Homo sapiens: one gene and its partners. The protein of the gene in region 5 purifies or fractionates together with the protein of the main gene of each other region. This does not show direct contact. Each region holds a gene or a part of one and is shown on either strand. Other genes may lie near its edges.

The links.
Region 1: the proteins of PNO1 (region 5) and WDR3 fractionate together in Homo sapiens (co-fractionation; one large-scale study listed by BioGRID). This does not show direct contact.
Region 2: the proteins of PNO1 (region 5) and KSR1 purify together in Homo sapiens (co-immunoprecipitation; one large-scale study listed by IntAct). This does not show direct contact.
Region 3: the proteins of PNO1 (region 5) and NOC3L fractionate together in Homo sapiens (co-fractionation; one large-scale study listed by BioGRID). This does not show direct contact.
Region 4: the proteins of PNO1 (region 5) and LRRC47 fractionate together in Homo sapiens (co-fractionation; one large-scale study listed by BioGRID). This does not show direct contact.
Region 6: the proteins of PNO1 (region 5) and MTMR3 purify together in Homo sapiens (affinity purification with mass spectrometry; 3 studies listed by BioGRID and IntAct, with this or other methods). This does not show direct contact.
Region 7: the proteins of PNO1 (region 5) and MYB purify together in Homo sapiens (co-immunoprecipitation; one large-scale study listed by IntAct). This does not show direct contact.

Annotation. Positions count from the first base shown.
Region 1 is NC_000001.11:117,939,739-117,943,238, reverse strand, and holds part of WDR3 (WD repeat-containing protein 3), read right to left. Parts: intron 2,413-3,500; coding exon 2,299-2,412; intron 2,116-2,298; coding exon 2,014-2,115; intron 1,490-2,013; coding exon 1,392-1,489; intron 803-1,391; coding exon 695-802; intron 1-694. UniProt on the Homo sapiens protein: Part of the small subunit (SSU) processome, first precursor of the small eukaryotic ribosomal subunit.
Region 2 is NC_000017.11:27,459,448-27,462,947, forward strand, and holds part of KSR1 (kinase suppressor of Ras 1), read left to right. Parts: intron 1-3,500.
Region 3 is NC_000010.11:94,338,940-94,342,439, forward strand, and holds part of NOC3L (nucleolar complex protein 3 homolog), read right to left. Parts: intron 2,807-3,500; coding exon 2,734-2,806; intron 1,558-2,733; coding exon 1,494-1,557; exon of another isoform or gene 1,489-1,493; intron 1,409-1,488; coding exon 1,337-1,408; intron 982-1,336; coding exon 800-981; intron 1-799. UniProt on the Homo sapiens protein: May be required for adipogenesis.
Region 4 is NC_000001.11:3,779,499-3,782,998, forward strand, and holds part of LRRC47 (leucine-rich repeat-containing protein 47), read right to left. Parts: intron 3,266-3,500; coding exon 3,163-3,265; intron 2,104-3,162; coding exon 2,014-2,103; intron 1,839-2,013; coding exon 1,590-1,838; 3' UTR 1-1,589.
Region 5 is NC_000002.12:68,160,888-68,164,387, reverse strand, and holds part of PNO1 (RNA-binding protein PNO1), read right to left. Parts: intron 2,706-3,500; coding exon 2,622-2,705; intron 2,124-2,621; coding exon 2,063-2,123; intron 1,843-2,062; coding exon 1,725-1,842; intron 1-1,724. UniProt on the Homo sapiens protein: Part of the small subunit (SSU) processome, first precursor of the small eukaryotic ribosomal subunit.
Region 6 is NC_000022.11:30,028,771-30,031,368, reverse strand, and holds the end of MTMR3 (phosphatidylinositol-3,5-bisphosphate 3-phosphatase MTMR3), read right to left. Parts: 3' UTR 501-2,598; downstream 1-500. UniProt on the Homo sapiens protein: Lipid phosphatase that specifically dephosphorylates the D-3 position of phosphatidylinositol 3-phosphate and phosphatidylinositol 3,5-bisphosphate, generating phosphatidylinositol and phosphatidylinositol 5-phosphate.
Region 7 is NC_000006.12:135,212,308-135,215,807, forward strand, and holds part of MYB (transcriptional activator Myb), read left to right. Parts: intron 1-3,091; exon of another isoform or gene 3,092-3,193; intron 3,194-3,500. UniProt on the Homo sapiens protein: Transcriptional activator; DNA-binding protein that specifically recognize the sequence 5'-YAAC[GT]G-3'. Plays an important role in the control of proliferation and differentiation of hematopoietic progenitor cells.

The DNA of each region.
Region 1 (3,500 bases), on a different chromosome or scaffold from region 5:
GCTCACGCCTGTAATCCCAGCATGTTGGGAGGCCGAGGCGGGTGGATCACTTGAGGTCAGGAGTTTGAGACCAGCCTGGCCAACATGGCGAAACACCATCTCCATTAAAAATACAAAAATTAGCTGAGTGTGGTGGCACAAGTCTGTAATCCCAGTTACTGCGGAGGGTGAGGCAGGAGAATCGCTTGAACCTGAGAGATGGAGGTTGCACTGAGCCGAGATCATGCCACTGCACTCCAGCCTGGGCAACAGAGCAAGACTCCATCTCAAAAAAAATTAAAAGAGTGCTCCGAGTATTGAGTAGTAGCTGAGTAGGCTTTTAAGTAAAAAAAAAAAAAAAAAAAAAAAACTAGGCTCAGATCCTGGTTCTGATACATACTTTGGTTCTGTGTATGTATTCTTTATAAGTGACCTTATATCCTTTCTGAACGTGGGACACACTTTTCTTTTTCTTAAATTAGCTGCAGGAAAAGACAGTAAATGACTAGCTAAAAAGGGTACTATAATAATCCAAATACAAGACAAAAAGTGGGCCCATGATTAGGACAACAGGAGCAGAGTGTGACACAGATGTCTCATGACCACCGTCTCCACATATATAATTCATACAGACAGCTTACAAATAGCATGAAAAAGCCAATAATACTTGGTAGCTTACTATTTCTATAACTTCAGATAATTTATTTTTACTCACTTGATTTTGGCAGAAGTTTTTATATTAGTCACCCGCTGGATTTCATCTTGCAGACTCATTTCAACATTAACCTCAGGATCTTCCTCCTCTCCTTTGCTAGAATGTAATCTAGAGGGAAGAAGAAAAGTATATCATGCTCTTATTTTTCTAGAAGCAGCTTTGCTCTTACTTGAGTTCAAAATCTGGCCCCTTGACCAACAAACTGTGTTATTCTGGAAAAGTCACTTAACCACACAGGATTACCATGATAATTAAACAATGTAGTATAAGTGGAAATGCTTTGTACACTACAATGTCATAAAGTATTATTTCACTTAATAGGTACCCTTAAGAAATGGATTCTGAATGCAATAGCCCATAAAATTTCTTGTAACAAGGTCCTTGTAATTCCAACTATTCCACTGAAATGTCTCCGGTTATTTTTCTAATTTCAGGACTTTTTAGAAAACTCATTAACCTGCACTTAACAATCCAACCATGTTAAATAAACCAGAATAGGTATCAAAAGATTTGCCAAATCAGATGATTTTCTGTCTCTCTGAGACTTGACAAATTTGGGTTATCGATACCTCACAAGTTCTTTAACTTTTAATGGTAATTGATAAGACAGTAAATATGAAAGAAGCCAGTTTTTTTTCAGTAACATGGGGCCTACCCAGGATACTTCATTATTAATGTAAGTATTAAGAAAACATACTTTGCTTTCTTTCTAGCTTTCTTCATCTTCTTATCCATTTTCTTCTGAATTTCCTTTTTGGAAAGGATACAAAACAATTCTAGCACAGAGTCAGTTCCCTAGAAAGGCAAAAGGTTAATGTGAGTCAAGGAGAGGTAATTTGTAATTTACCTAATTCTCAATTAAAAGTAAACAACAATATTTATTTTTCTTCCCTTAGTAGTTGTATTACCTTGGACAACTTAATCTCTCTGGGTTTGCTATCTCATCTGTAAAATGAGGATACCATTTCCTACTTGTAGCATTGCTCTGAAGGCTGAACAAGAAGTTAAATGCTCTTAAATTGCTTAGAAGAGCAAGCATTTAATAAATGGTTGCTAATAATAATACTGGTACAAAAGTAATTGCAATTATTACTTTTTAAATGGCAAAAACCACAATTACTTTTCCACCAACCTAATAGTAATTATTAATATTTTTGTTGTTATGCTAATAAAGCTAGAGATTATAGGTCCACACAGTACCATATAATGAATTATTAACATGAGTCAAGAAAAAGTCATCTTTACATTGAATATGAAAGAATGAGTGTTTGGAAGGAACAGCCTAGTCCTTGTTATTTTCTCCTAAGTATGGTACTCACATGGCAAGCAAGAATCCTGCCTGTCTTGTCGACTGCAAGGTTTACAACTCTGTCTCTTCCTTCCCGCATTATGGAACCAGCTTTTCTGCATGAAAGGATTCGCTACAGAAGAAGCAAGAGCAGATGAAGGTTAGATGTAAGTTCTGCTGAACTTCTGAAAAAAACATAATTCTAATAAGTGCAAGTGACAAAAATATTCCCTAAAGTGATGATTCCCTAAAAATCTGCAATTCTTACTTTCCCATTATTCAACACAATTAAACTTAAGAAATGAAAATGAATTACATCCTCAGGGGCTTCATCCGTCTCAAAGGCACCATCCTCTGCCTCAAGAGTATCTTGTATTCCAGGAGAAGATCCTTTGATTTTCTTGGGGTCTGGTTCTTCCGGGTCTTCAATCTGTTTTATAAAAATGAGAAAATAAAAGCTGAAATAGTATGTTCCAGGAGGCATGTTGTTGTTGTTGTTGTTGTTTTGTTGTTGTTGTTGTTGTTGTCGGAGACAGAGTCTTACTCTGTCGCCCAGGCTGGAGTGCAATGGCATGATCACATCTCACTGCAGCCTTGATCTCCTGGGCTCAAGCCATCCTCCCACCTCAGCCTCCCAAATAGCTGAAACCACAGGCACACACCACTGTGCTTGACTAATTTTTAAATTTTTTGTAGAGACAGGTTCTTGCCATATTGCCCAGGCTGGCCTCAAACGTGTGTGTGGACTCAAGTGATCTTCCTATCTCAGCCTCCCAAAGTACTGGGATTATAGGCATGAACCACTGTGCCTGGCCCAGGAGGTAACTCTTAATCCTGAAGACTTAGAAATCTTTCTTATGGCCAATAACAGCTTCTAATCAGTGATCTCCCTTATCAAACCTCTTCAGTAGCAAGGCAGGTATCAGAACTTATTAAAAACTGACTACATAATATACAAACAAAATATTACTTATTATACTATCTCCAAAAACTTTCTATAGCATAAGGACTACTGTTTAGTGACAATGGTGAAAAAATAATGACCCCACTCTTCACTAACTTCAAAATTTTCTGTATTTAGGTGAAAGGTTGACCATATTATAGAACAAAAAATTCAAATTGGCATTAGGAATTGCAAAAGCATCGCAAGACAGGTAGATACATTTTCTCCTTAAATAAAGAAAAGATAACCCCTAGCCTACTAATGTAACTCCCATCGAAATGGCTGCTGGACCCAGCACACACCGAAATTCAGCTAAACCTAAGGTCTGCAAGCTTTTCTTCTATGTAAATTCTTTGAATGTCTAAGAAAAAGTTATAGATCTTTTCAGAATATACATATTTATAAACATAAAATTCTACATATATATTTGAGGGGAAAGGTTCACAGATATTCTGAAGGCCATCCATGGACACCCAAAGGTCCAAGAATATCTGATTAAGAGTGCCACAAACTAAAACATTAGTATTACCAGAAGCTGTAAGCCTAAAGCTAACCTGAGCTCAAATAAATAAGGA
Region 2 (3,500 bases), on a different chromosome or scaffold from region 5:
GGTGACACAAGCCAGGAAACAATCTCAGCAAGCTGGGTGGGACCGTCCACCGCCAGCAGCATGTGTTGGGGCCAGGCAGGCAAGTGGCAGTGTCCACTCCAGCGTTCTTTCCTGTTCTGTGGGCTCCCCACACACCAGGCCGTGGCCCCAGAGACTGTGCTTGCAACACTGGATTCCTGGCTTTTGAAGAAGGATCTGACCTGGAGGGCTTGGCCTGTGCAACTGCATCGGACTTATCTAGAATCTGAGGAGCCCCAGCTCACTCTGGCCTTCATTAAATAAACACTCAGTGGGAGAAGCAGCACGTGAAATGTCCGTGGAGGTCCCTGACCAGGGATGGGCTGCTGCTGCCTGAAATTGGGTTGTGATGGGGTGTAGTGGGTCAGCGTGTCTGGTTGTCCGGGGATAGCTTTTCTCTGTGTGGTGGTCCAGTTTGGATGGAAAAGGGTAGAAGGAGCTGAGACTTAACGTTTGCTGCCTGTGTGCCTAGCAGCGTGCCTGACTCTTCTCAAACTCACACACGTTCCTGGAGATCAGCAGTTTTCATCATACACATTTTCCCTCTCTAAATATAAAGGGAGGGAGGCACAATTTGAAACCAGGGTATTAATCTGTAAACAGAAGTTGTGAGGCTACTTCATCCTGGCAGGAGCTGGTGTTCTGTCTCCGCTAGACCCTCCTAGGGGTCTGAAAACTCCACCGAGGCAAACGGGAATGTTCTTATGCCCCAGTGTACTCACAGAGGGACACTTGGCCTGCCTAATAGCTGGGCCTGCAACCTATGCCAGTAATAATTACCTTCATTCCTTTGAATCTGCCCAGCGCTGGGGAGACAAGGGTGTGTAGAAGCAGACACATGTTGCCTCATGGAGATTTATGTTCCAGGGACATTGTGACTTGCCCTTTCCTGCCAGCCTACTAGTACTTTCCAGAGACAGGCTCTGCCATGCTGAGTCTCCCCACCTTGTGTTCTTGTGGAGAAAAATCCCTCCTAAGCAAGCTGGCGTGGAGAAAGGGGCTGAAGGACTTTGACCATCAGGCTTTGCTGGGGGAGGTGATGTTGGCAACTGTGGTAGGTGCAGAGTCAGGCTGTGCTGGGAGGCGATGTTGGGAACTGTGGTAGGTACAGTCTCTGCCCTTGGGCTGCTTTCCTGAGCAGTTGCCCTGGAGCCGCAGGGGGTCAGAGGGGAGGCCCTCCTGCCATCTGGAAGGTCAGAGAGGCCTGGCCCTCACACAGCTCTGCCGTGGCAGAGGTCAGAGTCCCACCGTGTGGGGGACCTGAGCTCTCCCTATGCCTCCCAGGAGCATCTGATGATGGAACTGCTGGGAGAGGGGAGGGGTGGCATTCCTGCAGATTGGGTCCTTAGGGTGTGTTGAGGCACGTTCCCTGGACAGACCTTTAGTTACTGTTGATGTGCTTACCTGGCTGGCAGCCACCTAGCAAGGGCTCTGAAGTAGGTGGGCTGTTCTCCCAGTCTTTGGGGTCTAGGGACAGTTCTAGTCTAGTGAAGGAGCCAGGCAGGGCACAGTAATGACTTTAGTAGCACAGCTTGCAGGACCCTGCATTGGGAACCCCACTGAACCCTTGGCCCATCCAACCTCCTGGTTTTTTTGTTTTGTTTTGTTTTTTGTTTTTGTTTTTGTTTTTCTTTTAGTCAGAGTCCCACTCTGTCGCCCAGGCTGGAGTACAGTGGCATGATCTCGGATCACTGCAATCTCAGCCTCCCAGGTTCAAGCAATTCTCCTGCCTTAGCTTCTGAGTAGCTGGGATTACAGGCATGCCCCACTATGTCCAGCTAATTTTCGTGTTTTTAGTAGAGATAGGGTTTTGCCGTGTTGGCCAGGCTGGTCTCGAACTCCTGGCCTCAAGTGATCTACCCACCTTGGCCTCCCAAAGTGCTGGGATTACAAGTGTGAGCCACCTCCTGGTTTTCTGGGAAATATTCCCAGAGTCTTGGGGACTTCTCCCAAGTCACAGGTCCCTGGCAGAACTGAGACTGAAACCTGGTTTTGCTTTCCCACCCAGCCACTGTCTCAAAGTGTGGCGTTTCTCTGCTTCTGCTCTGTGGCCACAGTTGTAACCCTCTGGCCAAGTGGCTCCAGCCGTCTCTGAAGAGATACAGAGCTGGGGCTCTGGCCCTTTTTTGTGTCCACTTTCACCCGGGTAACTTTTTCCCTGGTGAAACCTACCTCCCAAATGTTTCTTAGAGGCAGCCTGGAGGGAGACCCGCAGTGGCTGTGAGCCTGGGGAGGGCTGGGTGGTGCTGGAGAGAGGTCTTATCAGATCTGGAGGTGTGGTTTGCTGCCTGCAGCTATGGGAATGCCTTCTTCCACGTCAGGGTTGTTTCCTCTTCTTGGAGTGGTCTGGGCTGCCTCAAAATCCAGGAAAGTGCGCCGCAGGTATTCTACTCCTGCCCGCTGGGTGTGTCTGGAGATGGACCATGCGGAGACGCTGGCCCACGGTGGCAGTGTCTGCAATGCCGGGGAGAAGCAGCAAAGCCTGTGGCCAAGTCTCTCTAAGCTATGCCTTTTTAAAAGGCCATCCTTTCAGAAGAGGCTGGTTGAGATCTCTTTTTTATGTTTAATTCAAAGGGAAAGCTGCATAGGTGCCTTTGGGGTTAGGGGAATGATCTTGGAGTAGAGAGGGCAGACACAGATGAAGAACGTGCTTGATCACCTGTTCTATGTTGAGCACTCCACTAGGCTCTCGGCATATGTTGCACCTTAACATTCACAATGATGCTATGAGGCCTTATCCTGATGTTGCAGATGAGGGAATTGCAGCTCAGAGGGATGGAGAGACTGTCTTAGCAGGTGGTTGAACCCAGGTTGACTGGTCTTGAGAACTTATGTTCAGAACTCCACAGCTGTTGCTGTGGCGGGGAGATTCTGTGCAGGGCCATGGTTGCTGAGACCAAGGAAATGGCCAATAATAAAAAGGGCTGGGCCGAGGGCATTCCGTGGCTCAACTCTAGATGTTTGGGCTTCCTGGTGGCCACCCAGGCTGTGCAGCCTCAGGGTTCGGGCATGGGTCTGCTTCCCTAATGTCCAGGCTAGCACATCCTCAAAGACAGGACTCTCAGCACCATGATGCAGCCCGCTCTACGCTTGTCTCATTCTGAGAAAGGAGAAGCTGCCTAGAGATCAGTTTACTCATAATTTTTTAAATGGCTACCTGTCTTATTCTTTCTGAACAGTTCCTCTGATAAACAGTGTATTCTTTAACTTTCTACTTTTAATTAAAATATTTACAAAATACATAATGATATATGTTCACTATAAAAAAGAAAGTACTAGATGTACAACAGTGAAAATCACCCATAATGCCACCTCTCAGAGTTAATTCCAGTGCACATTTTGTTGTATATTCTTCCTGCATTTGCATATAAATGTACATGTGTATATTTGTGGCACATACCATGTGCATTGCCTTGTAAATGTCTTCTGTCTGTATCAGCACATATACATATGCATCAGCACTATTAGTGGCTGCATTGTGT
Region 3 (3,500 bases), on a different chromosome or scaffold from region 5:
CTTTGAAAATTAATTTTATCTTGCAAAAGAAAAAAATATGCTTCTCACCTTGCAATCACACTTTTAGAAATCTGATAGAAATAATTACATCAGATAAATACATAAAGATATTCACTATAGCATCATTTGTAATAGCAAAAAAAGAAATAACCTATATCAAGAGAAATAGAAAGAAGCAGAAAAACCAGACTGCCTACATTTGAATATCACTTCTACCACTGACTGGCACTGCTACTCAAGCCAAGACACTTAACCTCTCTGGACCTCAGTTTTCCCACATGTACAATAGGAACAAGAATAGTAGCTACCTCAGAGTTATGAAAATTAAATTTTTGTAAGGCATTTATAACTGGAAGGCACATAGTCAGAACTATGGTGTTTGTTAAGCAAAGAATTAAATAAACCTTACATAAAGAGAGTAGTGACATTATAATGTGTTTACCATGATTAAATGCTAAGGTTAAAAAAGTGGTAGAATATATAGCATAATCCTCTTTCCATTAAAATACAAAGTTGAGTTGTTTCTATGTGTATGTGTTTATATATGAACTTTAAAAGGCTGCTGGAAAAATACCCACCAAATGGTAAATGGATACCCACCTAATGACACTGAGAAGTGTCAATAGGTATAAAATGCTTTTTTTCAATTTTATATACCTCTTTTGTCACCTGATTTTGTTACAAGTGTGAATTACTTCTGTAATTGAAATAATATAAAAGGGGGGAAAAGACATGCCTCAAACAAAAAAAATCATTGCATTATAAGAACTTAGCTCTGTTCATTTGTATCACTACTTACATGCATTAATATTCTGGTAGTTGCTAAAATGCCAATACTTGAATTTGGAAGAACATGAAGAGCAAGGGTACAAAGGCGTTTGATGAAGGCAAGAGCTCGCTGCTGAGAAACTTGCTTTCTGCGCTTAGTTAGCATGACATCAAGGCACTGGAGTACAATCTCAACACCTTCATTGGTAGCACCTAAAACAGCAGACATATTCTTCAGAGCTGTTCTCATTACTTTTTCATTACGCAACTGGACTGAACTTCAGATAAACCCAAGATAAACTTTTGTACCTGTCCCAAACCATTTCTCTAATCAATGAGGTAGTGCTATACTGCTAAGGAGATACAGCGGGCTATACTTACTGCATCTCCAGTCAATTCCAGAAGCTCTTTCTCCAAGTCTTACATAAGATTAAATACAGATGCATGGCACTGGAAAGTCACCATTTTATGTACCTGTTCCTATTTCTCATTTGTCTACAATGATGGGTCATAACATATTCTTAAAACATAAATACATATAAAAGAAACATTATCTAAACATACATACCTGCATGTAATTTGAACAGTGTTTTGTAGAGATGTGTGTAGAATTTCAATGGATCAATATTCAGAACATCACCTTTGAAATGACAACAAACACCAATTAGGTATGTTATAGCATTCAAAGGTAAGGCAAACAAAACTTGATTAAGAAAATATCATACCTTGTCCAGAAAGAATATGAAAAGCAGTCTGGACACAGTGAAGACTTTCTTGATAGCTTAGGTCCTTTAAAAAAAAAAGGGGGGGGTGAGGGGGATGGAATATTAAGAATGGTAATTGCCATTTATAGCTTTAAAAAAGAACTTTAAGGCCAGGAGCAAAGACTCAAGCCTGTAATCCCAGCAATTTGGGAGGCTGAGGCAGGCAGATCATTTGAGCCCAGGAGTTCAAGACCAGCTTGGGCAACATGGCAAAAACCCATCTCTCAGGGCCGGGCGCGGTGGCTCACGCCTGCAATCCCAGCACTTCAGGAGGCCGAGGCGGGCAGATCACGAGGTCAGGAGATCAAGACCATCCTGGCTAACACGGTGAAACCCTGTCTCTACTAAAAATACAAAAAATTAACCGGGCATGGTGGTGGGCGCCTGTAGTCCCAGCTACTCGGGAGGCTGAGGCAGGAGAATGGTGTGAACCCGGGAGGCGGAGCTTGCAGTGAGCCGAGATCACGCCACTGCACTCCAGCCTGGGTGACAGAGCAAGACTCCCTCTCAAAAAAAAAAAAAAAAAAAATTTCTACAAAAAAATAGAAAAATTAGCCAGGTATGGTGCCCCACATCTGTAGTCCCAGCTACTCAAAAGGCTAAAGTGGGAGGATCACCTGAGCCCTGGAAGGTCAAGGCTGCAGTGAGCTGTGATTGCACCACTGCACTCCGGCCTGGGCAACTGAGTGAGACCCTATCTCAAAAAAGAAAAAAAAGACCTATAAAGGTTATCTTTAAGATAACCTAGTATGAGGCAGATTTACAGGGTGACTATAGTTTACAATAATCTATTATCTATTTCAAAATAGCTAGGAGGGAAGAATTTGAATGGTTGTCACATAAAGACACATATTTAAGGTGACTGATATCCCAAGTAAAATATTTACAAACTATATTATATGAATATATTTAATTATCACATATACCCTGAAACCATGTACATCTATTATGCATCAATTTAAAAAAAAAAAAAAGAAAACAGGTCAGACAACCCTCCTGCTTAAAACTCTCCAATGGTTGAAAACGTTCTACATCTTGACTGTGGTGGTAATCATATGATCATAGGCCTTTGTCAAAATTCATAAACTGTACATCTAAAAGGGGTTTTACTGTATACAAAATATATCTCAATAAACCTGAAAAATTTTTAAAATAGTAATTACCATTTATATCTTTTAAAAAATAATTTATTATTACTTACACCAGACTCAATGAGAGTATGAAGAACTACTAACAGATCATCAAAAAATTCCACATTTATAAGGTGAGCAAACCTGGAATCAAACAAAACAGTTAATCAGTGAACTAAAAGCAGAAATAAAGCTGGTAGAAATTAAGCTTGACTTTAAAACTGTATTTTTAATATTCTTTATTTCGAAATGTTAGCTATGAAAGACATGGCAATTATTGATACTTTTCATTAATTCAGATTGGCCTCTTCAACAATTCATACACCATTGAACACTAAACTCAGTAGAAATATATAAGGCACTGAACAAACCAAAAATATTTCAAAAATCCTTCTGCACTGAGAAAGAAATTACTAGAAGCAAACAACTTCCTGAGGAAAGTTTAGGAGGTATCCGGCAGGATCGGCTTCTAAGAAAACAGGTGGTGGGAAGAGAGACAAGGAAAGATTCTGCTACTTACAAGAATATGGACCTTATGACAGCTTTAAGGATAAAATGGAAAGAATACTGGACCCCAGTATCTAGTTCAGGCTCTGCTCTTAATTACCTGCGTGATCCTAGGTAACTCACTTCACTGTCCTGGGCCTCTATTTGTAGAAATAACTGAGACCACCCAATAGGGTTAAAGAAGAATCATATGAGCTGCTAAATTTGAGAGTTACTCCATATACTATAGTAGACACTGAAGTAGGTTAAAGTCAGGACATCTCTTCAATATTAGCAAGAAGTCTTTGATCTATGTAAATCTTAGAAGAATAAAAGACCTTATGAGTGACAT
Region 4 (3,500 bases), on a different chromosome or scaffold from region 5:
GTGTGCACGCACATGTGGTGCCTGGACATACACGAAGACACATGGACGTGGGGGTCTGACCTGGACATTCACAACGGAAACGTCTACAACAGAAGGCGCCCAGGACCCACCTTTCTGGCGCATAAATGAAGATTTTTGGCTCAAAAACCTAAGCATCCTCCAGCTTTTGCTACCATCTGTCCCTCGGCTGGCTGAGGACTGCCGATGCTTCCCAAGCAGAGGCGTCTGGTCCACTCCTGGGGCTCCACCTGCCTGTCACTGCAGCACCAGCGTGCACACGATGGAAACCCCACCGATGCCGCTCTCCTCCGCTTGGCCCCGCTGAGCCAGGGTGAGGTGCTGCCACTGCCTTCAGCCTACAGGCTGCTTGCCTGAAGGGGTCTCCACATCTCCACCCCCACAAAGCAATCCAACAGCAGTATGAAGAGACGCAATTCTGCCAATTCTAAGGTCACATTAAAACTTTTCCCCCCAAGATTATGATCACTGCCAGCTGGAGAACCCAACGCCCTTGCACATGCCAAGCTGCATCCTGGCATGATATGGTTTTACAAGATGCTGCGTCATAGAAAGTGACCGTGCCGTTCAAGGAAACGCACATCGGTTGGCTTCCCAAGTTTTCGGGTCTCCGAACCAGTGACAGTCACGTGTCGCTCAGTGACACATGAGAAACGTGTGCTTAGCCGCTGCTGTGTGATCACAGAGTCTTTACACAAGCCTCGATGGTGCATGTAGTTTTATTTATGTGTTTTCATCTGGAAAACCAAGTGTCCCAGCAGCATGACTGAACATCACTCACTTCCCCTACTTGATCTACAAGGCCAACGACGAGAGCCCAGACCAGGATTCCAAACACACTGCACGAGAATATTGTGGATCCGCTGTCAGGTAAGTGTCCGTCACTGACCCAGACGCTGTTACGTGGCACATGACTGTACAGTGCCACGTAACAGCACTGTACTTTTCTCCCATAAACAGTTACCTGCCATGTATCTACATGATTCAGAACATTTTGAACAGTTAATTCTGACACTTGAATAATCCCATCAAAAACCGTAAAATCACTTTGATGTTGTAACGACAACATAGCATCACTTTACGACAGAATCATCTGGAAAAACAGAACAACGAATACATACATCTTAAAAAATGCTGGGGTGGGCCAGGCACAGCTCACGCCTGTAATCCCAGCACTTTGGGAGGCTGAGGCGGGTGGATCACGTAATCCCAGCACTTTGAGGGGCAGAGGTGGACAGATCATGAGGTCAAGAGATCAAGACCATCCTGGTCAAAATGGTGAAACCCCGTCTCTACTAAAAATACAAAAATTAGCTGAGCTTAGTGGCACACACCTGTAGTCCCAGCTACTTGGGAGGCTGAGGCAGGAGAATCGCTTGAACCCAGGAGACACAGGCTGCAGTGACTCGAGATCACGCCACTGCACTCCAGCCTGGCGACAGAGCGAGACTCCATCTCAAAAAAAAAAACCAACAAAAAAACTGGGGTGAAAATCTAACGGATAATTCAGCATTGCCGCATAGAAACCTCCGCAAAACCGGCCAAACAAACGCGGACAGGCGGCCCTGGCGTCAGCGCACGACAGTCACGTGGGGAGGGGCAGTGGCCAGGTCGGCCTTGGACGGGTACACCACCTTCAGGCTCCCTTCCAGATCCACCACCCGGACCTGCTCCACCACCAGAAGGGAGGGCCCGTCCTTTCCAGCACTGGGATTCGTTGTGGGATCTGGAAGTTGTCCAGAGACTGCATCGGCTTCAGTATCTGAGAGTGATCCTTCCTCTTTATTTTCTAAAGTGTACTTTTTCATTTCTGCCATTTTCTGCAAATAAAAAATACCTTTTTAACCTGGAGATGAGAGGTGACCCAGGGAAGACATGCTGCTGTCTGCCAACACAGTAAGCAAAAAAGAGGCAAGCAGGACGGGTGGGAAGTCAAGGAGCAGAGCACCACTCACGCTCAAAAGCGTTTCTCAGGAGGAGCCACCCCACACTCACCAGAATGAGGGCATCCATGACATCCTTGCAAATCTGCAGACTGGTGGCACTTGTTACTTCCAAAAACAAATCAGAAGTCGTTTTCTTAACCTTAAAAGAAAAAAACATTTCAGAAAAGAACAGTTATCAAATGTAGACATCAGCAACTGCAACATTTGTTCTCAGGAAAAATCTACAAAACTGTGTGGCCAGGCACAGTGGCTCACACCTGTAAATCCAGCACTTTGGGAGGTTGATGTGGGAGGATTGCTTGAGCTCAGGAGTTCAAGACCAGCCTGGACAACACAGCAAGACCCCATCTCTACAAAAAAATACAAAAATTAGCCAGGTGTGGTGCCATGCACCTGTGGTCCCAGCTACTCAGGAGGCTGACATGGGAGGATCGCTTAAGCCCAAGAGTTTGAGGCTGCAGTGAGCTATGATCTTGCCACTGCACTCCAACTTCGGCAACACAGCAAGACCTATCTCAATCAATCAATTAAGCAGATGGCGTCACACACACCAAGCCCACTCCTTACAGAGGAAGACTGCAGTGCTGCACACAGCATCCCGGGCCGTCACGCAGCACCGAGCATGAACAGTGAGCTGTAGCTCTGAGAAGCCAGGGGGCCCTTTGACCCCTCTGGGCTGCGTTTTCTATTGCACACAATGAAACCTCACAATGCAGCAGATACTTGTGTGTGTTAATTCTTTTTCTTTCTTCCTCTTCTTTTTTTTTTTCTGGAGACGGAGTTTCACTCTTGTTGCCCAGGCTGGAGTGGAATGGCGCGATCTCGACTCACTGCAACCTCTGTCTCCTGGGGTTCAAGCGATTCTCCTGCCTCAGCCTCCTGAGTAGCTGAGACTACAGGTATGTGCCACTATGCTCAGCCTTCCAGGTTCAAGTGATTCTCCTGCCTCAGCCTCCCGAGTAGCTGGGATTACAGGCATGCACCGCCACGCCCGGCGAATTTTGTATTTTTACTAAAGACAGGGTTTCTCCATATTGGTCAGGCTGGTCTTGAACTCCTGACCTCAGGTGATCCGCCCACCTCGGTCTCCCAAAATGCTGGGATTACCGGTGTTGAGCCACCACGCCCCGCAGACTTGTGTTAATTCTACAGGGAACAGCCTAGAAGACACACCATGTTCACACACATGCCACCCTACCTTTGTCTTCTCACTGTTGGTTATTGGTGGGAAGGAAATCACATCACCGTCTGCATCCACAAGACACGGGTAATTTTCATTTCCATCCAGCAAGTGAAGGTATCTGTATGGGAAGAAATACAAATTCCAGGCATAATTATAAAAGAAACACTGTGCTGGGTGTGGTGGCATGTGCCTGTGGTCCCAGCACTCAGGAGGCTGAGACAGGAGGGCTGCATGGGCCCAGGAGTTGGCTGGGGTGTGCTGTGCCAATGGAGTGTCTACGCTAAGTCTGTCATCACTATGGTGAGCTCCTGGGAGTGGAGGACCACCAGGCTGCCTAAAGAGGAGTGAACCAG
Region 5 (3,500 bases):
TCCCAAGTAGCTGGGACTACAGGTGTGGGCCGCCACACCCGGCTAATTTTTGTATTTTTTTGTAGAGAAGGGGTTTCACTATGTTGCCCAGGCTAGTCTCAGACTCCTGAGATCACGCCATCCACCTGCCTCAGCCTTCCAAAGTGCTGGGATTACAGATGTGAGCCACCATGCTTGGCCATATTTTTAAATGTGGTGTGCATTTGCACATTTCCAGTTCAAAATAGCTTCTCCCAAGGCTCCATATTTCTGACTCTAGGCTCAATCCATAAAAGATCAAACAATATAATTATATGCCTGGCTTCAGGTAAAGAGGGCCACCAACACAGTAGTATAGTTATCCTTAAAGTGTAAAGAATGTACAAAATTTAGGTTCTATATAATGAAGAGTCCTTCAGTATGGAGCAAAATTGAGATATTAAATGAAATTATTTCAGAATTTAGTCATAGGCAGAACCCTCCTCCTCTCAGTCAACTGTTCAGTTTCCCAACTTCATGGCATTATATAATCTCTGAGCCATCTGCCAGTAAGATCCCCAGCCTGGGCAGCTTCAACCTCAGACAGGGGTAATCCCAGCTTCACTTCTGGCACCTTTATTTTAAGCCCCTCTCATCTTGTTTATGTTCACATATAACTGCTCTCTAGTTTTGCCTAATGTACGATATTCCCCTCCTTTTATAAAAGGCCTTAACATATATATGTATATACATAAAGTAGATATATACTTCTAAAGACTCACAAGGGCATCTGAAATAGTGATTGCTTGTTCTCCCCTAGTGATTTAATAGATTCCCTTGAGTAAGTATGTATGTATGTATGTATGTATGTATGTATGTATGTATGTATTTATTTATTTGAGACAGAGTCTCACTCTGTCGCCCAGGCTGGAGTGCAGTGGCATGATCTCGGCTCACTGCAACCTCCTCCTCCTAGGTTCAAGTGATTCTCCTGCCTCAGCCTCCCGAGTAGGTGGGACTAAAGGCGTATGCCACATGCCCGGCTAATTTTTGTATTTTTAGTAGAGAGAGGGTTTCACCATGTTGGCCAGACTGGTCTCGAACTCCTGACCTTAGGTGATCCGCCCGCCTCAGCCTCCCAAAGTGCTGGGATTGCAGGCGTGAGCCACTGTGCCCAACCCGAGATATTATTTAAATCTTCACCTGTAATAATTTCTTTTAATAGCATTTCCTCATTGTTAAATGAGAAAAGAATATATAATTTCTTAAATTTTCTCAACTTAAGCCTCTTTCAAAGTTGGTGACCATCTATTCACCCAAAAGTATACAGATGATTCCCAACTTAACACGGTTCGAACTGGGATTTTTCAACTTTACAAGGGTGCAAAGGTGATACACATTCAGAATGCTCTACTTCAAATACACATACAACCATTCTGTTTTTCATTTTTAGTACAGTATTCAATATTCAACACTCTGTCATAAAGTAGAATTTGTGTCGGATGACTTTGCCCAACTGCAGGCTAATGTGTGTTCTGACCATGTTTATGATAGGCTATGCTAAGCTATAATGTTCCATAAGTCAGGCATATTAAATGCATTTTAGACTTATGATATTTTCAATTTATGATGGATTTATGAGGAGCATCTGCACTGACAAAGATTTAGCAGCAACATTATGCATAAAATACAACTGTTATGACTTTCTTAAAACAAAAGATCAAATATAAATTATGACAATAATTTTCTCAAGATCAGATACTTACACATCAGCCAAAACTATCCTTGTCCGTGTCACATTCTCTATGGTGAATTTGGTTTTTCCTCCTTTGCCAGCGATTCTTCCTATTGCCCTGGATAGATGGTCTCCCTTTAGGGGTTTAACTAAACAAGAAAAGCAAGATCTCAGGAGGCAAGCCATTCTAGTGTACCACCCATTCCACATAAAGTTTAATCATAAACTAAATTTCTCTAAAGGACACAAAGTGTATATATATATATATAAGTTGCTAAAAATACAGCTCAATTGATGCTATTAGAAAACTGAGAGTCACATCACAATACAAAGTCAGCGACACAAGAGCGCAGACCAACACACACTCACCATCTGTAATTTCAAAAGACTCTAGGAAGAGGTCATCCAACCTGATGAGGGCAAGTGCATCCTATAATATAAAAACAAACACCGTGAAGCCCCTTCCATTTGCACACCTGAAAAAGAGTAAAGTGCAAAGCACTATGGAACTAAAATCCACAAACTCTAGAGCTAGAAAGCTTTTTTTTTTCCCTTGGAGACAGAGTCTTACGCTGTCGCCCAGGCTGGAGTGCAGTGGCGTGATCTTGGCTCACTGCAATCTCTGCTTCCCTGGTTCAAGTGATTCTCCCACCTCAGCCTCCCAAGTAGCTGGGACTGCAGGCATGCACTACCACACCCAGCTAATTTTTTTGTATTTTTAGTAGAGATGGAGAGTATCGCCATGTTGGCCAGGATTATTTTGAACTCCTGGCCTCAAGTGATCCACCTGCCTCAGCCTCCCAGAGTGCTGAGATTACAGGTGTGAGCCACTGTGCCTGGCCTTTTTTTTTTTTAATGCCTAATCCATTGAAATGTTCACATTGAATATTTTTAAAGTCCCCATTTTAGATATCATGGAATTACTCACCTCCACCTGAAAGCCGAGAATAAAAGCTTTCACAAAATCAGCTGCTTTTGTCAGAGCACTAACATCCTTGGTTTCTTTACAAGTCTGTTAAAAAACAAAAAAGGGTACAAAATACCGTTGAGAATCAAACAGAAAATGTCCTAACAAAATACTGGAAATGTCCTTTCCCATTATTGGAGAATTTCCTTCACCACCACCTTTCCCTAATATATTCTGTATGACACAGGTTCTGGTCAGATAAGTGCTGTACTTTATTTGCAAAACAAAACGTTCCCAGCTCCAAAGCTTGGCTGTTCCACCCAAAGAGTGTCAAATAACTAACCGCACTATATGATCAGATTTTGGGGTTAACAGCAAGACTCCTCTGGCACAACCCAATCTCTCCCATTCTGAAGAACCTCTACCTTCTGTCCATCCCTTCAATGCCCAATGTCCTCTTCTCTTCTCTCTCAAGGCAGTCTTCCCTGGGATTCCTGACTTAATCTTCTTAGTTATCATTTATATGCTGATGTTTCTTAAACCAACAGCTCCAGGCCTAACTACCTGCATGCACTGATTGGGGAAATAAAGAATGAATGAAGCACTGAACCTGTCCTCAAAGTTTATTTGAGAAATGCAGAAATAACTGTTATTCATAAAAAGCCTACCACTGTAAATAACACGTACTATAAATAACATGCTTTACACACCATAACTCTAACCTTCACAACAACTTTGAATGTTAAGTGATATGACTACCTTCGTATGTGAGGAAACTAAAGTACTAAAAAGCAAAAAAGGTAAGATTTAAACACAGGTCTGATTTCAAAACTGTTATTTCCACTGTCCCATGCACATTCACAGTCTAGTTGAAGAGACCACGTATTCAACAAATGTAAA
Region 6 (2,598 bases), on a different chromosome or scaffold from region 5:
AATACAGCTATTTACATCAGGCTTTCTGGAGGCCCAAGAGCACAAGAAGAGGGTTAGGAGTCGGGAAAGTATTTTCCTTTTTTTATGGGACAGGGTCTCCCTCTGTTGCCCAGGCTGGAGTGCAGTGGCGTGATCATGGCTCACCACAGCCTGAAACTCCTAGGCTCAAGAGATCCTCCCACCTTAGGCTCCCAAGTAGCTGGGACTACAGGTGTGCACCACCATTCCTGACTAGTTTATTCATATTTTTTGTAGAGACAGGTTTATTTATATTTTTCGTAGAGATGGGTCTCAACATATTGCCCAGGCTGGTCTTGAACTCTTGGGCTCAAGTGATCCTCCCACCTCGGCCTCCCAAAGTGCTGGGATTACAGGCATGAACCACTGTGCCTGGCCAAGAATGACTTTTATTCAAATTTTGCTGTTAACTCATTGGTAATCTGGATGTCTTTGGCCCTCTCTGAGTCTCAGTTTCCTCAATGAAAAAGGAGGAGATTGGATTAGTGATTTTCAGACTTTTTATTTTAAGAAACAAACAAAACCTTTCTTCATACCAGATCTTACTTTTAAATCTAATAAAGCTTTGAATGGGCCTGGAGGCTCCCTCTCCACGAGGCCCCAGAGAACAGTATGAAAACCGTGGAAGTAGGTGACCTAAGGTCCCTTCCGCCTCTAAACATCAGGAATCCATGAACCCTGCCTCTGGAAGATAAATAGTGACCCCCCCCCCGCCCCCTCCTCGCTGAGAGCCCCTCTCTCCTAAGAGGCTGAGCTGATTCATACCCTGCACCTACGACACTGGATTATAGCACTGGCAGGAGAACCACAGTGACAACCCAAATCCAGGGGCTCAACAACTGTTTGTGGGTGAAAATGACAGATTTATTCAACTTAAATGGTCACCGAGGCTACAGCAGAACCAATGCTGTTACAATAGGCAAGCACTACTGTCAGCAGCAACATACCATTTATTTCTTCAACAGCATCTGAGCCTCATGGGTTATGTTTTCATTAAAAAAAAAAATCTTATAAGCTAGTTGGGAAGCTGTTAAAGGCCAATTTTAAATGGCAATGTAAAACAAATTTCACTGAAAATACAATTCAAATACAACTGCTATGAGCACTGTAAGAAAAACTGACTAGTTACTCAGATATAATAGAAAAGACCTTAAATGGTAAATAAAACAATAGCAGCATTTAAAAACCTGGTAACTCCCATTTCAGAAGACGCCCTTCCCCTGCCCAGACCTTCATGCCTCTGAACACCTGCCTAGCCTAGGAGAGGCCTGTTCAAGCAGGGAGGCTACTGGTATCTGCACACAACATGCAGATGAGCTCTACACCAGCCGAGAGGAACAAGGCTTCAGTGCAGTTGTGTGCTGGGGACAGCAGGACTCGTGTTTAAGTGTCAGAGGCTTAGAGGGGTCAGCTCTGAACTAGAAGTCTCTCACATATCTGGTCCTGCCCTTGAGAAATCTTGTCAGTAATCTCAACTTAGAACAACTTTCTGGAAAATGTGACTAGAAATTAAACAGCTGGGACTCCTGCCACATTATCCAAAAGTCCAAATGGATAGTCACTTTGCTCCACAGCCCAGGGTCCACTTTAAATTCTGCTGTTAGCCCTCACCTACTGCAATCAGGTGGATACAGCTGCAGCCCTGGGGACAGGTCACTTGAACTGGCAGCAGCTAAATGAAATCCTGCAACAGCACCTTCAAATCAGCCCTCATTCCCAAAAGATCAATAGAGGTCAGGGCTAGAGTTAACTTCAACAGGCATGGGATCTCCCAGCCTCATGTGCAAGCAGGCAAGTATATCAGGATATGCCTTTAATTCTCATCTTGATGTTTTTTAATAGCCAGAGATTGTTTAACAGGTCCTCCAGCACCTTCTGTTCATTCTCCTTTAGATCTACCACAGTAACATTCTAATTCATAGAATATTCTTTGCTAACATGAAAAGAGTTAGCATATAAGCAAAATTATTACAGGAAAACTTTTCTGTACATCCTCATAGAGAATCTCAGTGGATTAAGGCAGCTGTAACTTGTTTTGGACTGCAGTTACAGAGGCCAAGGTATAGAAGAAAGGTAACGAGAGTGCCAGGATAGGAAAGTTCTGAGATGAAGACAACCTGGCAGCTCAAAGTCACAGTTCATGCCCTGTTGCTTCAGACCAAATTCCCTCTACAGCCTGAAGCAAGCTGGCCTTGCCCACAGAGAACTGCCTTTCTCCATATGCAGCCACCTCCCTCAGGGCAATTCCTTGCCTTGGATCCTCACTGCACCTGCTTCACCAGCATCTTGGCTCTTCATCTCCCTACCCCCAGAGAAGCTTTCCATTTAGGAGCTCGCAACGCCCTTCCTAGGCCATGCCAGTGTTTTAATTTGCTGGAGACTAGCCCACAGGAACAATAGTGGCTGTGTGTAGACACGATGGCCATGGCACACACTCATGGTTTTCACAACTTCATATGAATACACAGACTGGGCTGCCTGGCGGACTGAGGGTAGCTGAGATGGCACATTCTCCTTCCACAGAAGAATGATTTCTTGTTTTCAAACGCCTGCTGGGTGGCACTTACGGCTTTCACACTA
Region 7 (3,500 bases), on a different chromosome or scaffold from region 5:
GCCAAGGCTTTTGAAGCCAGCAGATACTGGGTGAAGTTGCTGTATGAATATAATAATAAGAACCGTTTTTGTTCAGCTTGATGAAAAAACTATTCATGTTCTAAATGAAAATGTGAAGATCATCTAATTCTGACAGAAAACCACCTGTGGACATGGTCTTGTTTCTTTTTATTTCTTCTGTTTTCTACAAAAGATGGCAATATTTATTTAAAGTGCTTTAACAGGATATCCCAGTTAAAGCTTTGACAGACTGTTTATAGTTCACTTCTGCCCAGGGGCAATTAAAGGCACATTACAGGATAAGCGAGATGACTCCCCGGCCACAGGAGGAGGATGTGTGGGTAGGATTATTAATGTTGAAATGAATTATGATAGAGTGACATGTCTGCAAGAGCACCATGGGTTAGTAACTTAACAAGAATTCATATGCAGAAACCCATAATTCTCAGCAGTTCTTTAGGGTAAATGAAACTAAAGTTTAGGGAGAGAGAACAAGGAGAATTTGCAAAGATATGTATGACAGTATTTAAAAATGTTCTTCCAGCACAAAGACATTAATCTTCCTTTGTCAAAATAATTCTTTCTGCATGAAAAGTTGGCATGGGGCTCCCAGGCTTCAGGTAAGATGGGAGAAAGGGAGCGTTTCTTTTTTTTTGTACCAAAGTACTCAATCTTCTGATCTTCCTTGACTTTCACGACATAGGCATATGTCTACTCTGACCAGTTTGTTTCATTTATTGTGGTAAGATGTGCTTGTCTTGTGCTTTCCTGGTGCAGAAAAGGAGCTGCCTCGCTCATGCTTGGTGGCCTTTTTGTTCCTACACACAGTGGTTCTCGTACATGGTGGCTACCACATCCTGGTGTTTGTCTATACTGGGAGAATCAGGCGTTCCAAGTCATCTTGGCTGCCCTAGCTCTGAGCTTCAGGGGATATATGACTCAGAAATGCTATGCTTTCTGGAATTTGGATATTTCATTTTTATTTGTTTCTTGGTAAATTCTCTTTTGACTTAGGAGAAGCTAACTATTTGGAAAGGTCTCTCAGAACTCTAATTACAAATATATGGTACCTTCTTTATATTGATCTCATTTTTAAATACCTAGTCCTGGAGGAAGAGCTAAATATGAATACAGTGATGAGCTGTGTAGGGGATCTCACAGGAACACAGTCAGATTTCAAGTTGAAAATAGATTCAGTTGATAATACTTAGTACTAGATTCTCCTGAATCGACTTTGGGAATTCTGAGTCAACCTAAGGACTATATTACAAAGGATCAGACCTTGACTTTTAGGCCAGGTGTAGTGGCTCATGCCTGTAATCCCAGCACTTTAGGAAGCCAAGGCAAGTGGATCACTTCAGTCCAGGAGGTTGAGACTAGCCTGTGCAACACAGCGAGACCCTGTCTCTACCAAAAATACAAAAATTAGCCAGGTGTAGTGTAGCACCTGCCTGTAGTCTGAGCTACTGAGGAGGCTGAGGTTGGAGAATCAACTTTAACCCCGGATATGGAGGCTGCAGTGAGCTGTGATCATGCCAGCCTGGGCAAGGAGCAAGACCCTCTCTCAAAAACGAAAACAAAAAAGACACAGAACTTGACTTTTAACAGGAGGCATAGTAATAGCAAGCATAAGATTGTTTTAACATAGCATTTAAGATAATTTACGCATTTAGAAAATTAATTCTGGCTGGTTGTAGTAGCTTATCCTTAATCCTAACCCTATGAGAGGCCAAGGCAGGAAGATCACCTGAGGCCAGGAGTTTGAGACCAGCCTAGGCAACATAGCGAGACCCCCGCTCTCTACAAAAAATTTTTTTTAAAAAACATAGCTGGGCATGGTGACACACTCCTGTAGTCCCAGCTACTCAGGAGGCTGAGGCGGGAGGCTTGCTTGAGGCCAGGAGTTTGAGGGAGCTGTGATCACGCCCCTGCACTCCAGCCTGGGCAACAGAATGAGGCCCTATATCTAAAAAAAAGAAAAATGGACAAGAAAATTCTATATTGATTGAAGCCCAGCTAAATAGAAAAAAAAAAATTCTAATAGGCCATTTTAAAGACTTTGGAAAAATTCTTAGCTAGAGTAAAACAGAAGCAATCCTTTCTTTCCTGGTTCTCACATCTCCATTCTCACCTTCATTCCCCTTCCCCTCCATTTGTTTCAAGTATTTTTCTTTTCTATGTGTGTCTTTATGTAAATTTAAATTTACCTACAAGATATTATGATATTAAGATATTTCATTCTGCTTCCTGTTTTGTCACTTGTTCTTTAAGATCCAAGTCCTTGGCTCCATGTGCATCTAATCCTTGCCATAAGCCCTGCATCGTACTTCATATTCACCATATTGAACTATTCACCCTCAAGTAGTCACTATTAAATGTCACACTGTTGTAGCGACTACAAATGCAAGCTCAGTAACTGAAAAGATAACATTAAATTTTGTTTTTTAATTGGTTTCCTGTGTCAATTTCATGTTTCGGGAATTTGTATGGACAGATAGACACCAGAGAGATATGCGTATTTCACCTGCATGCTTGAGGCTAGAGAAACATGATTTATTCAGAACTATTTCAAATACTGTAACTAACCTGGTAATTTTGTTTAGGAAAACATTAAATTCGGAATAGAAGGCAATTCAGAATACCTGTCTGTTATCTTTGTCTTGTCATTTTTGAGATACTCAGTTCCTGGAAAATATTATGATAATCCATCTTGCTATGTAGTATTTCAAGTTATATGTTGAGCCTCTGAGCTTGCAGAGTGAACATTTCTATTCATAGACAGTGCTGTTGACATCAGTGGGGAGATGGCACAAGCTTTGTGCCCTAGGAAAGTTTAAAAGCTAGAACATTACACTGCAAACCCTATGTCAGGAAACTTTGTTGCAGCAACTAGGCAAGGAAACCCTACCACTGTACCCATACCTTGTTTTAGTAGAATTATGTTTCTTTGCTAAGAAGTCTGGTGACTCTCACACCCCATCTCAGCACTTTCCTGGATTCCAAGGCCCTGGTGCCCTGAGCACACAACTTCCCAGGTTCCTTTTATTGTTTCTGATAAGAACTCGAATTAGAGGCAGCGTCTGGTACTCACCAGGGGTGTGGTCCCATGGGTGACATTCTTGCTCCATCATTTCTTACCCAGGTAACCTTGAGTATGGCGCCTAAATCCTCTCTTCCTTTCAAATTGCCTGGTCTGTAAAATGGATGCAGTGAATGGTAGCTATGCCACAGGTGTTTTGTGTGAGAATTAAATGAGAGGAGTTATATCAATAACACTTAGAGGCATGCGGTGCCTATAGTGAGGGCTTGTTTTATGTTGTCGTTTAACCCTTTCTTTCTCAGCCCTCCCCCACTCCACATCCCCTCCCACTGGCAATGTACAAATTGCAGCTTCCTGCCTCTTTCCTGCTATCTCGCTCCCTGGATGACATCCCTGCGTTTCCACCTCTCTCTCCCCTAATCTTAGCTGTTTTCACCCTTTCCCCACAGCATTGCCTTGA